Homo sapiens: one gene and its partners. The protein of the gene in region 3 interacts with the protein of the main gene of each other region in a biochemical or structural test. Each region holds a gene or a part of one and is shown on either strand. Other genes may lie near its edges. The genes, in order: THBS1, LPL and LRP1.

Region 1 (3,746 bases), on a different chromosome or scaffold from region 3:
AGCTGGGCCCTGTCTTCCTGCACAAACAGGGTGATGCTCTTCCACTGGCCGGTTGCCAGGAGAGCTTCTTCCACAGACACCACGTGCTGCTTTCCTTGGACGGTCAGGCTGAGGTCCAGGGTGCCCGCCTTGCCATTGGACACCACGCTGAAGACCTGGCCAGAGTGGTCTTTCCGCTCCAGGGCCAGCAGCGTGCCCCGGGTCTTCTTCATCTGCCTCAGGGATGCCAGAAGGAGGAAACCCTTTTCTGCCCGCACAGCATCCACCAGGTCTTGGAACTTGTCATCAGGCACAGGGGGGATCAGGTTGGCATCCTCGATGCGGAAAGCTGGGCTGGAAGGGTCGGGGCCCTTCACCAGTCGGCGCCCAGACCCCTTGCGGGCGGCCCCGGTGAGTTCAAAGATGTCAAACACGCTGTTGTCTCCGCCAGACTCTGTTAGACAGGAGAGAACACAAAGTGAGCTTTCTAGGCTGGGACCAGCAGTAGGGGGCTGAGTCCTTAGGGGTGGAGACAAAGGGTTGGGGTGAAAACTCCTGGCAACCACTGAAAGAGGTGAATAAATACCAGGATCAGAGTGAAGCTGCGTCCTGATGTCCAGTCAGGCTCAAGAGGGAGAGGACAGCACGTGAGGGGGCACACCTGGGATAGCCAGCACCTCTTCCTTGTCCCTCCTTCCCCTAAAGGTGCCACACAAACTCACCTGGAATGCGGTTGGTGCCACACACATGCATCAGGAACAGGACGCCTAGTCCCCAGGCCAGCCCCATGGTGGAGCTGTTGGTGCCCAGCAGGGATCCTGTAGCAGGAAGCACAAGAGCCGAGGGTCAGAGATCAGCTAGGCAGGGAGGGACGGTGCGCAGAAACGGGGCTGGGCATGGGGACAGGGCCGGGACCATCCCTCTTTGACCCCGCGTTTGCTGAAATGAAGGACAACAGGATTACTTTCCAGAGAGCATGAGAGAGAGAGAGAGAGAGAGAGAGAGAGGTGGAGGAAAGAGATGCTGGTTTTAAAGTGTGGGGGGCGCAAGACCAACAATTTGGGGGCTTTTGGGAAGTCGAAGGTGAGCAAGATCAGGAACTGTAGTTTGGGGTTGCAGGGAGGGCAGGGGAAGTACAGACTCTTCCCTGGAGTGCTGATACAAAGGCTTAAGGAGGACTTCAGAGAGTAAGGAAATCTTGGGGTGTCCTGATGAGTTGGTTTGTGAACCTCAAGGCTGGAGAGGATGGCTCTGGAGCCTTGCCCTGAAGAGTCCTCCAGCGGCTGAGAGGAGCGGGCTGGGGTAGGCGAGCGGGGAGAGTGTAGGTTCCGGGGTCCACCAGAGGGACTGAAGCCTCAGCGCTCCAGGTGGATGTCCCGGGCAGCTTTGGTCCTCGGCGGCCGCCGGGGGCGACTTACCTGTGTGTACCGGAGCGCGGCGGCCGGGAGCGGTGGCGAGGGCGGCGAGGGCTGGAGGGGCGCGGGGAATGCCTGTGCGTCCGGAGTAGAGGTTGCTCCTGGAGAGCGACAGGAGCCCTGAACTCGCAGGCCAGCTCGGGCGCAGCGGCTGGCAAGGCGGAGGAGCCGCGCGCTTTTAAAGGGGCGCTCGCATTCCTGGGGATTCCTCCGGCCAATGGGCGGCGGCCGGGCAGGAAGCGGGAGGTGGGGGCCAGTCTGGGCTCCTCTCTCCGCCCCCCGCTGCCTGGCGCGCAACTTTCCAGCTAGAAAGTGAAGGGGGCGGGGGTCGGGGCTTGGGAGCACTAGAACTTCTCAGAAAAGTCGGTGCCCGCCCACGCAGCCTTGGCGCGCACGGGCTCGGCGCTCGTACTCTTGCGCCACGCGGGCTCGGGGTGATCAGCAAGCATCCCGAAAAGGGACGGGGCTGGGGAGACCACCTAGGAGGGCCCGCGGGGTGGCGCAGGGGCTTTCGGGCGAGCTGATCTCCCGGAATGCCTGGTTGATGGCGAGAGGTGGATACTAGAGACTGGGCCCGTTTTGTAAAAAGAAAAATGGGCCGACGGGGCGCAGGGGACACCAAGAGAGCCATTCGTTAAAGTACCTGCCCCTCGGGCCCTCGCTGACTCTCCTCCACCGTCCCCGTGGGGTGAGGACACGCGTCCCCCGAGCGCCTGTCCTGAGCTGGCCCCACGCCCGCCCCGGAGGGAGGTGAGCGCGGCGTCGGCGGGGCCGGCAGGTTGGTGCGCCGCGTTCGCCTTCGCTGCCTTCGGGCCCTTTCCTGCCGCGGCTGCCAGGGGGCCCACAGAGACGCCTCTCCCGCTGCCGCGGCGCTCCCTCGGCCGGCCGCTTGGGGGCGGTGTGCGTATTCTCATCAAGGGGCCCGGGGAGGACAGCTGCTTTCTACTCGAATTTTAAGGAAACTTACTCGTATCCAGTTTCCACAAGCCAAATTGAAATTGTGTCTTGAAAAACAGTTTTTGTGCCCACTCGTGCTTCTTAACGTGACTCCTGTTTGGAGAATTTGCAGAACCATCTGGCTCCAGAGTCTTCAGCTATTTACAGAGCAGACCCATAGAGTAATAAATTACTCTCTGCCTATTATTGTATTTCCCTTTTTCCTCCCTAAACGTTCTTTTCATTTTTCGGCTCCTGAACCCGAGGTGTGGGTTACATTTCTGTGGGTGCACACATTGCCATGAGTGCCGCTGCCTAGTGCTTCTGTCATTGAAGTCTGGTCTCCAAGCCACTGTCCCAAGCCAGCATGACTCTAGCTTCCTGGAATTCCATTCATCTCTTCGGGATGGGACGTCAGCCGCCTCGCTCCCTCTGCTGTGATCCAGCGCTATCGGGCTCGCTCCGAGGCCAGGGCATAGGTAGAAGCTTGACCAAATAAGGATCTCAGCACGGGCAGGGGGAAACCCCTGGGGTTCACCTCCCATCTTAGCACTTAAACCTGGCAGGACTCCCGACTGCTGCAAACAGCCAAGTGTTTACATTCATCAAACAGCAGTTTCGCTTTTCTTGCGTGGGAGTGTTGTATGACAAGATGGTGTGTGTGTGTGTGTGTGTGTGTGTGTATTACGGAAAGAGTGTTTTCTAGTTACTCAATATGTATATAAAATGCCTCTAAAAGATGACCGGTATGTTCCTAAGGCACATGTTTGTTGGATTTCAGATGTTGGGAGGCAGAAAGAAAAGTTTCTACTGGTTGATGAATAAAATCAGATTCTTGTCCCGCAAATCATAGGTAATGATTCATCCAAGCAGATCTGAAGATTCTGGAATCGGCACCCATCCATCTCCCTCCCCTTCCTTCTCCTTCTACAGCATTCATCTTGCTCTTCGAAAAGTAATTGGGTTTTTTTTTTCTTCTTTCCACTTGCTCCATGATACTGGACAGTCAGAAATAGTTCTTGGAGGGATGGGCCGCTCATGGCTCTGGGCTCCTCTGGCCCACTGGATCATTGTGTACAAATCAGATGGGGGCTTGAGGGCTGCAAGAGGCCCACAAAAGCAGAATGCATCTTGTATGAAAAGATTATCTCCCCTAGGCTTAGCTGTGCAGACAGAGTAGAAACCAGCACTCACTGCCCCTTCAGGATTCATGCTGCCATGGCTGAGGGATTGTAGGAATGCCTCTGCAGATTTCTTGGAACTTGGCTTCTTTCAACAAAACAAGGACAACAGTTTCCAAACTTCATCATGCTTTACCAATAAGAAGGTGACCTATACGGTGGCAGGAAAGAGCTTTCTTATTAGAGAAAGCTGACAGGTATAGGAGCTGCTTATCTCAAACACAAAGCCCTTCCT
Region 2 (3,746 bases), on a different chromosome or scaffold from region 3:
ATATGCATGCATATATGTATATGTGTGTATGTTTGAATGTATAGTATATGGGTATATATTTTCCCATTATTCCTTACTCTAAATATCTGTATCACTTTATCATTGAAGGTTAGCCAAGCAATGACAGACTCAGGAAACATTCAGTGGAAGGGACCAGAGGTACATGGTCCAGCCCCTCATTTAACAGGTGAGAAGCCTGAGCCCCAGGGAGGTGATCCCGTTTGCCCATGTTCATTTGCCTGGTCAGCAAAAAAGACAAGAAAAGAACTTTTGTCTTTTATGATCAGTCTAATAAACACAGCTTATTTTTTACTTCCAATTACCTGGTTAAAATAATTTGCCTTGGTCAGAGTATCAGCTTCTTTCCAACCCCAAGATACTTTTCAGAGGTACTTCTCAAGGGATCGTGTGAAAAAGTGGGTCTCTTGCAGCTAAGTCAGAACTCCAGACCTCAGTTCCCTTCTATCCTATGCACCTTCCCTTCCAACATCTTCCTAGCTCAATTCCATCACTCTCCCAATGCTCAACAAAAACGTTCATCCTATTTCACACTAAAGAATAAGTACTATTAATATTTTCATGAAAGAGATTGGTATGTCAAGGTGAGGATAAGATGTCCACAGGCCAGCCAACTGGTAGGGAAGGGTCTGGCTGAACATGCCATCTTTCCTCTGTCCGAAAATCACAAGCTTTTTTCTGTTGGGCCCACTTAGTTATTGGTCTCAGCAGATCTATTCACTGTGAAAATATCAAACGATAGAGCAGGGCAGGACTATTTATTGGCCTTATAGTCTATTCTTATCAAAATGTTGCTTTTGGATATAAAATAATATCCACGCTGATTCTGAAGATTTGAATGCCCCCAGAAAATATTTAAATCTAAGAGAAAAGGAAGAAAGAACAGCCGGTTTTCTGGCTCCAGTCAAAAACACTGTTTTGGACACATAAGTCTCCTTCTCCCAGTCTTACCTCCATCCAGTTGATAAACCGGGCCACATCCTGTCCCACCAGTTTGGTGTAGCCCGCGGACACTGGGTAATGCTCCTGAGCCCGTGACAGCCAGTCCACCACAATGACATTGGAGTCTGGTTCTCTCTTGTACAGGGCGGCCACAAGTTTTGGCACCCAACTCTCATACATTCCTGTTACCTGAAGATGATGACACAAGCTTTCTTAAAATACCCACCTACCACTTGTCATAGATACATCAGCCCAATACACCTGCATGAAATGGAAAAAACAAACTTGATTGGAAACCCATTGGCACAGATAGAAAAATCAAATAACAGAACAGTGTTCAGAGACAGGTCTGTCCCTTCCAAGGCAGATCTAAGTAAGCCAGGAAGGCATTGAGTTGAGTTGAGGAACGGCAGATTGGGGTTCACCATGCTTCCCATTTAAAAAGTATATTTTAGACATTCAATAAAATTTTGATCATTTATACTATTAAAAGGAAAGATTGGTCTGAATGCAAAGTGGGTCTTTGAGGAAACTAGCAGGAGCACCTGGCTAGGAGCAGAACCCTGTTGAATTGGTCCAGTCCCACTCACCTTCGCCTCCCTTCAAGGTTGGGGTGTTGGGCACCCTTTGTAGTTGGCTTTCAAGATCAGGAGAGGTTGATGTCATTTCTTCAGAATGTAATGTTAATGTCTCCCTGTTTCAGCCAGGATCCCCTACTTCACAATGGGAACCCTGTACTTAAAGCCAGTGACATCCAAGCAAGTGGCAAAGCTCCAAGATAGCTGTGTCTAAGCAACCTGCTGGGATGTATCACATGCATGCTACATGCTAAGCATTCCTTTGGGTGTCTCATGACACAGCTGGAGAGCCTCCTCATTTCCCTTCGTCTGTGCCTGTGAGTCCCCAGGCAGCTTATTTCAGATAAGGCAAGAAAATCGGGTTTACTCTAGGCCTCTATCAGAAGTTTTTCTGTACTACCAGTGTTTCTCTTTTCTTTGTTCTTCCTTCCTTTCTTCCTCCCTCCCTTCCTTCCTTCCTTCATTCCTTCCTTCCTTCCTTCATTCCTTCCTTCCTTCCTCCCTCCCTCCTTCCCTTCCTCCTTCCCTTCCTTCCTTTCATTCCTTCCTTTCTTTCCCTCCTTTCTTTCCTTTCTTTTGGCAGAGTCTTACTGTCTCGCCCAGGCTGGAGTGCAGTGGCATGATCTCAGCTCAGTGCAACCTCCGCCTCCTTGGTTCAAGCGATTCTCCTGCCTCAGCCTCCTGAGTAGCTGGGACTACAAGCACATACCACCACACCTGGCTAATTTTTTTGTATTTTTTTAGTAGAGATTGGGTTTCCCCATGTTGGCCAGGTTGGTCTCAAACTCCTGACCTCCAGTGATCTGCCTGCCTTGGCCTCCCAGAGTGCTGGGATCACAGGCATGAGCCACCGCTCCCAGCCCAGTGTTTCCAAGTTAAGCAATCTAAAAAGGCTGGACATCCAACTTACTCCTACAGTGGCTGACATTTTTATTAACCGAACAATAGCTAATTGAATCCTTTCTTTCTGATCAACATAAAATACTGATGTAAGTAATCCCAAACAAAGCAAATGAAAAATCTAAGTACTCACCTTTCTCAACTCAAAAAGGGTCTTATTCTAAGTTCTTTCAATCTGAGTTTTTCTTCTGAGGTTCAATAATTACTATGTTTTAAATCTTTGGTTTTCAGACACGCAGCTGAACTGAAGCCCTCCCTGCTGCCTATACCAGGTGGGCCACCTGACCCTGCCAGTGAGTTCACTGAGATAATCAAGATCAGTGTGGCTGGCTTAGTTCTTGCACAGACCCAACTCAGTCCCACAGCCAGACAGCAGTCTCTGTGCTCAAGCACTCAAAATGTCAGGACACATGATGTGAAAGATACAGGTGGGCTTAGTGAGGCAGTAGGACCAATGATAGGAAGTGGCACCGTCTGTTGATATTGGGTTGGTCATGTCATCTTAGTATGAAAAAGAACCATTTTTTTCCCACAACTTCCCAAAGTATAAAATTCTCTCAGGGATAAGATTGAGATGACTGAGATACTCAATTTATTTCTGTTGTATAAATGCGTTTATTAAGCTCAGATTTTTTGAAAAATTTTAAAATCCAAGTTCTGTATATAACCAAAGGGCCTCTAAAGATTCCTTTTTCTGGGCCAGATGCAGTGGCTCTCGCCTGTCATCCCAACACTTTGGGAGGCCAAGGTGGGTAGATCACTTGAGGTCAGGAGTTCGAGACCAGCCTGGCCAACAGGGTGAAACCCTGCCTGTGCTGAAAATATAAAAATTGGCCGGGTGTGGTGGTGGGCGCCTGTAGTCCCAGCTACTCGGGAGGCTGAGGCAGGAGAATCTCTTATGCCCAGGTGGCGGAGGTTGCAGTGAGCCGAGATCGCGCCACTGCACTCCAGCCTGGGCAATAGAGTGAGCCTCCATCTCAAAAAAGAAAAAGATTCCTTTTTCCTACTTACACCTATTAAAATATTAAAGGATTTATGTTTAGGAATTTGAGATTTTATCACAAAATATTGAATTTACTATGTTAACATAGTAAATGGCTATATTTTGTTAAACATCTGTGTGAATTCTGTTAGTAGTAGTCTCATCTCTATAAAAATTGTAGCGATTGTCCTCTTCAGTCAATAACAAAGCCACTTAAATTATGTAGGAAAAGAAATGTGGACTAGATGAATGTTATTTTTAGTTAGTTCTCACTAGAAATTAGTATTATAATATTCACAAGCTCTGACATAATGGATAGATAATAT
Region 3 (3,746 bases):
CTGGAAGCCCTTAGCCCTGGGGAAAGGCAGGAGTATAAGGAGACAGAGATTATTGGGGGGGAAGGCTAGGATGGCAAAATAATGACCAGAATGTTCCAGAATCCCTGTGACTCACCCTTGGACTCGCCGCTTATACCAGAATACCACTCCGGCCACCAGAACCAGCAGCAGCAGCAACAGCAGAGGGATTAGGATGGAGGCTATATCTGGAGGGAAGAGGTGGGACACTGAGTCACCAAGGCTCAGGGAAGCAGGAGGCACACGGTCCCCCTGCTCTAGGTCCCGGTGGCCCTGCCTGCCCCAACCCCTGCCACCTACGTCCTGGCTGCTGCTGGCTGAAGACGTGCTCCTCACACCGGGGCCCTGTCATGTGGGGTGGGCACCTGCAGAAAGGAGGGACACGGCTGAGTAGGTATAACCTCCATAGCCACTGCTGCCAGGAAAACAGGGCGGGGGGTGGGCACTGAGGCCTGACGGTCCTCCTGCTCAAATCTGGGGAAGGGAGCGATGATCTATGCCTGGGTGAAGCCCGGGCCCAACTCACTGGCACTCAGGCATCATTTTGCTGTTCATGGTACAGGAGCCGCCATTGCTGCAGTGGCCGACGCAGGTCAGACAGCTGGGGGCCACCCGGCCATCCGTGCAGCTGCAGGAAGGAATCAGAGGCTGGGGCTGGGGCTGGCAGAGGCGTGCCTGGGATGCTGAGGAAGGGAGGGGCAGGGCAGGGCTAGGACAGGGCAGGGGCCCAGCTGGGTGGAACTGTGGAGGAGGGCCCCACTCACTTGCAGGTGACATCCCCACTCTGCTTGTTGACCACACAGGCCCCTTCGAGACAGCGGCTGCACTTGTTCACCTCACACCTCGATCCCTCAAAGTAGGCAGTGCAGCGGCATTGTCGGGAGCCATCAGCAGCCATCTGGCATGTGCCAAAGTTCTCACAGTAGCCAGAGCACTGCCCTGTGGTTGGGGAGGGAGAGAAGTGCCTCAAGCCCCACCCTCATGAGGGCTCTCCATAGGTTGAACAGAGCTTTTCTGTTTGCATAATCTTGGTGCAGGGGGTGCACTGCCTCAGGGGAAGTGTGCCAGCACCTTTGTGGGGAAGCGCCAGCAGCTTGGGCCTGGCTCAGCTGCATAAGGCCTTCTTTCCTGAACTTGCCCCTGTGGGTCCCAGGCACAGGTTGAACATCACCCCATGCTCTGGGGTCCCCCGTCACCCTCCCGCATGCCCTGGGGCCCAGGGATGGCTCACTCACGGTACTGGCAGCGGTCGCCCAGGAAGCCGGGTAGGCATCGGCACTGGGGCTGGTTGCCCTGGTTGACAGTGCAGGTGCTGTTGTTGGCACAGTAGCCCGCACACACCTGCTGGGTGCATTTGGGGCCCGTGAAGCCCGTGGGGCACCGGCACGTGGGCATGCCTGGTGGGAGAGGATGTGTGAGCGCGACTGTGGCCCTCGAGACCACCTGGCCCTATAGCAGAGGAATGGGCTGGGGGGACCTGGGCGAGAAGCAGAGACTGGAGTGACTGGATGCTGGGTTGTGGAAAGGAGGCTGGAGGCGAGGCAGGGGCTGGGCATTTGCCTGAGGTGGGGTGGTGGGTGGCGGGGCTGGGGCCCAGGGGCAAGGAGCAGGCGTGGCGGGATGAGGGGGCATACCAGAGGGGGAGGCAGCACAGGTGCCCCCATTGCGACAGTGCTCCCAGCACTGGTCCAGTTCACACTTGTCACCCGTGTAGCGGGGTTGGCAGCGGCACTTGGGCTGCCTCCGTGCATTGAGGAAACAGCTGCCACCGTTGAAGCACTGCAGGTTACAGGTTCCAGGCCGGGGAGCTGCAGGAAGGGCCCGTCAAGGGGCAGAGCCAGGGGAATAGGAGGAGAGGGACAGGCAACAAGGTCAGGGGAAGTCAGGAGCCACAGGAAGGAGATGGTCCTGAGGCATGGCTGGGACTGGGAGGGCATAAGCATACCATCTGGGGGGGGCGTTGGAGAGGGCACAGGCACGCATGTGCCGTTGTCCAGCCGCTTCCCATTGGGACAGGTGCAGACAGGCCCACTGGGGCTCAGCAGGCAGAGCCACTCGCATTTCTTGCGGTCACATGGGTTGGTCACTGCAGGTATGGGTGGGGTGGGGAGGATGCTGAGCAGGACCCTTCTCTGAGCCCTGTGAGCCCAGGGTGACCCCCTCTCCACCAGGTCCCAGGGCCACAGCTTGGAGACTCAATGCCCACAGGCCTCCCTTCCCCAGCCCAGGCTCCCCTCTGCCCCCACCTTCGGGCTGCTTGTGCTGATGGTAAAGGACCACGTCAGAGGCGTGGCTCAGGCCCCCTGTCAGGTTGACCAAGGGGCTGTGGCCAAACTTATGGATCTTGAAGACACGATTATTGATGTAGGTGACACCATAGATGTAATCCTCAAAGACGTCGATGCTGAAGGGGTGACTTAGGCCTGGGGGAGGAGGTGGAGTCAGAGGGGACCTGAGGGGCACTCAGGCCCTGGCCATGCTGTCCACGACACTGGCACCTGTGGTTCCCAGACACCTCAAACTCAACACATCCAGACCAAATTCTCTCTCCCCACACCGGTTCCTCCTCCTGTGGCCACTACTGGCAAAAGGTCCCATCACCCCCAGACTTCTGGGGTCAGTCATGACTGACTTCTATTCCTTCTCCCCCAATTTGCTACGTTCCTAATGTACCTATGCTGCCTCCGTGCAACCCAACCAATGAATGGACAAGTAGGCCAGAGGGTCAGGGTGGGTCTCAGGCCTGCAGGGCTGGTTCAGGGGGAGGCCAGCTGGAGAGGCCTGGAAGGCGCTGCAGCATTGCTGGGGGTCAGTGACAAAGGATGGGAGGCATTGAAGTGAGGCCTTTGGCTCAGTAGGGAGGATGGCAAGGCTGGGGACAGGGCTGGGGACTGCGACTTATGCCGGGCTCTGACCTCGTTTGCTGTCAGCAGCCACAATGGGGTCCGTGCCATTGAGCCGGATGCTGCCGATGACTGAAAGCTTGGCGTCTGCCCAGTACAGCCGCTCATTGTGATAATCCACGGCCAGGCCTGGGGAGAGAGAGAGCACTGTGAGAGCTTGGCCTCCCCAACCCAGGCTCGGGGTGGAAAGAACTGCCTCCATGCCCGGGACAGCTCCACCCTGTTCATACGCCACTCACAGTCACCTCTTTCGGGAAAAGCCTCCACGGCCAATCTGCCCTGCCCCAGTCCAAGCCCCATCCCATCCCTTGCTTTTGTGTGACTTCAGCAGCAGCTGGGCTCTGCGAGCCGGGCCCCCTCCATGCCCGTCCCTCCTGCACCCTGCCCCACAAACCTGTGGGCCACTGAATGTTGTCCTGCACCAGTGTCTCCCGAAGCGTCCCATCCATCGCTGCCGTCTCAATCTTGGGGTGGTTGCCCCAGTCTGACCAGTACATGGTCCTGGGGAGGGAGAAGGGGTGAGTGTGGGCAGGCCGGAGGGCCAGAGGAGGCAGGCCCAGGCAGGACACCAGCTTCTTGGTCTGGGGACAGGGACTGCTGGGGACTGGGAGGAGGGCATTCTGTCCTTCTACAGAGAAGCAGGCGGGAGTCTGCTTCTGAGCAGGTTGAGGGGCTTTTCCTCTAAAACCACAGTGTGCTCATTCAGAGCCACCGACGCTGGCAGAGCTGTTCCCCAGGGCAGAGTGTGGCTGTGCATGACAGCCGGCCAAGCAGAGGTCAGATCCCTGCCCAAGCAGGCCCAGCTGGGGGCCCTGGGCAGAGGCA

Evidence for each region.
Region 1: the proteins of LRP1 (region 3) and THBS1 form a complex in vitro, tested with the Homo sapiens proteins (3 studies listed by BioGRID).
Region 2: the proteins of LRP1 (region 3) and LPL form a complex in vitro, tested with the Homo sapiens proteins (3 studies listed by BioGRID).

The regions. Positions count from the first base shown.
Region 1 is NC_000015.10:39,578,880-39,582,625, reverse strand, and holds the start of THBS1 (thrombospondin-1 precursor), read right to left. Parts: upstream 1,548-3,746; 5' UTR 1,398-1,547; intron 919-1,397; exon of another isoform or gene 798-918; 5' UTR 769-797; coding exon 702-768; intron 434-701; coding exon 1-433. Other genes in the region: uncharacterized protein LOC124903470, read right to left, coding at 1,874-2,308. UniProt on the Homo sapiens protein: Adhesive glycoprotein that mediates cell-to-cell and cell-to-matrix interactions.
Region 2 is NC_000008.11:19,949,172-19,952,917, reverse strand, and holds part of LPL (lipoprotein lipase precursor), read right to left. Parts: intron 1,150-3,746; coding exon 970-1,149; intron 1-969. UniProt on the Homo sapiens protein: Key enzyme in triglyceride metabolism.
Region 3 is NC_000012.12:57,208,387-57,212,132, reverse strand, and holds part of LRP1 (prolow-density lipoprotein receptor-related protein 1 preproprotein), read right to left. Parts: intron 3,423-3,746; coding exon 3,316-3,422; intron 3,051-3,315; coding exon 2,934-3,050; intron 2,442-2,933; coding exon 2,265-2,441; intron 2,105-2,264; coding exon 1,964-2,104; intron 1,827-1,963; coding exon 1,653-1,826; intron 1,416-1,652; coding exon 1,254-1,415; intron 958-1,253; coding exon 783-957; intron 647-782; coding exon 545-646; intron 384-544; coding exon 319-383; intron 207-318; coding exon 116-206; intron 17-115; coding exon 1-16. UniProt on the Homo sapiens protein: Endocytic receptor involved in endocytosis and in phagocytosis of apoptotic cells. Required for early embryonic development. Involved in cellular lipid homeostasis.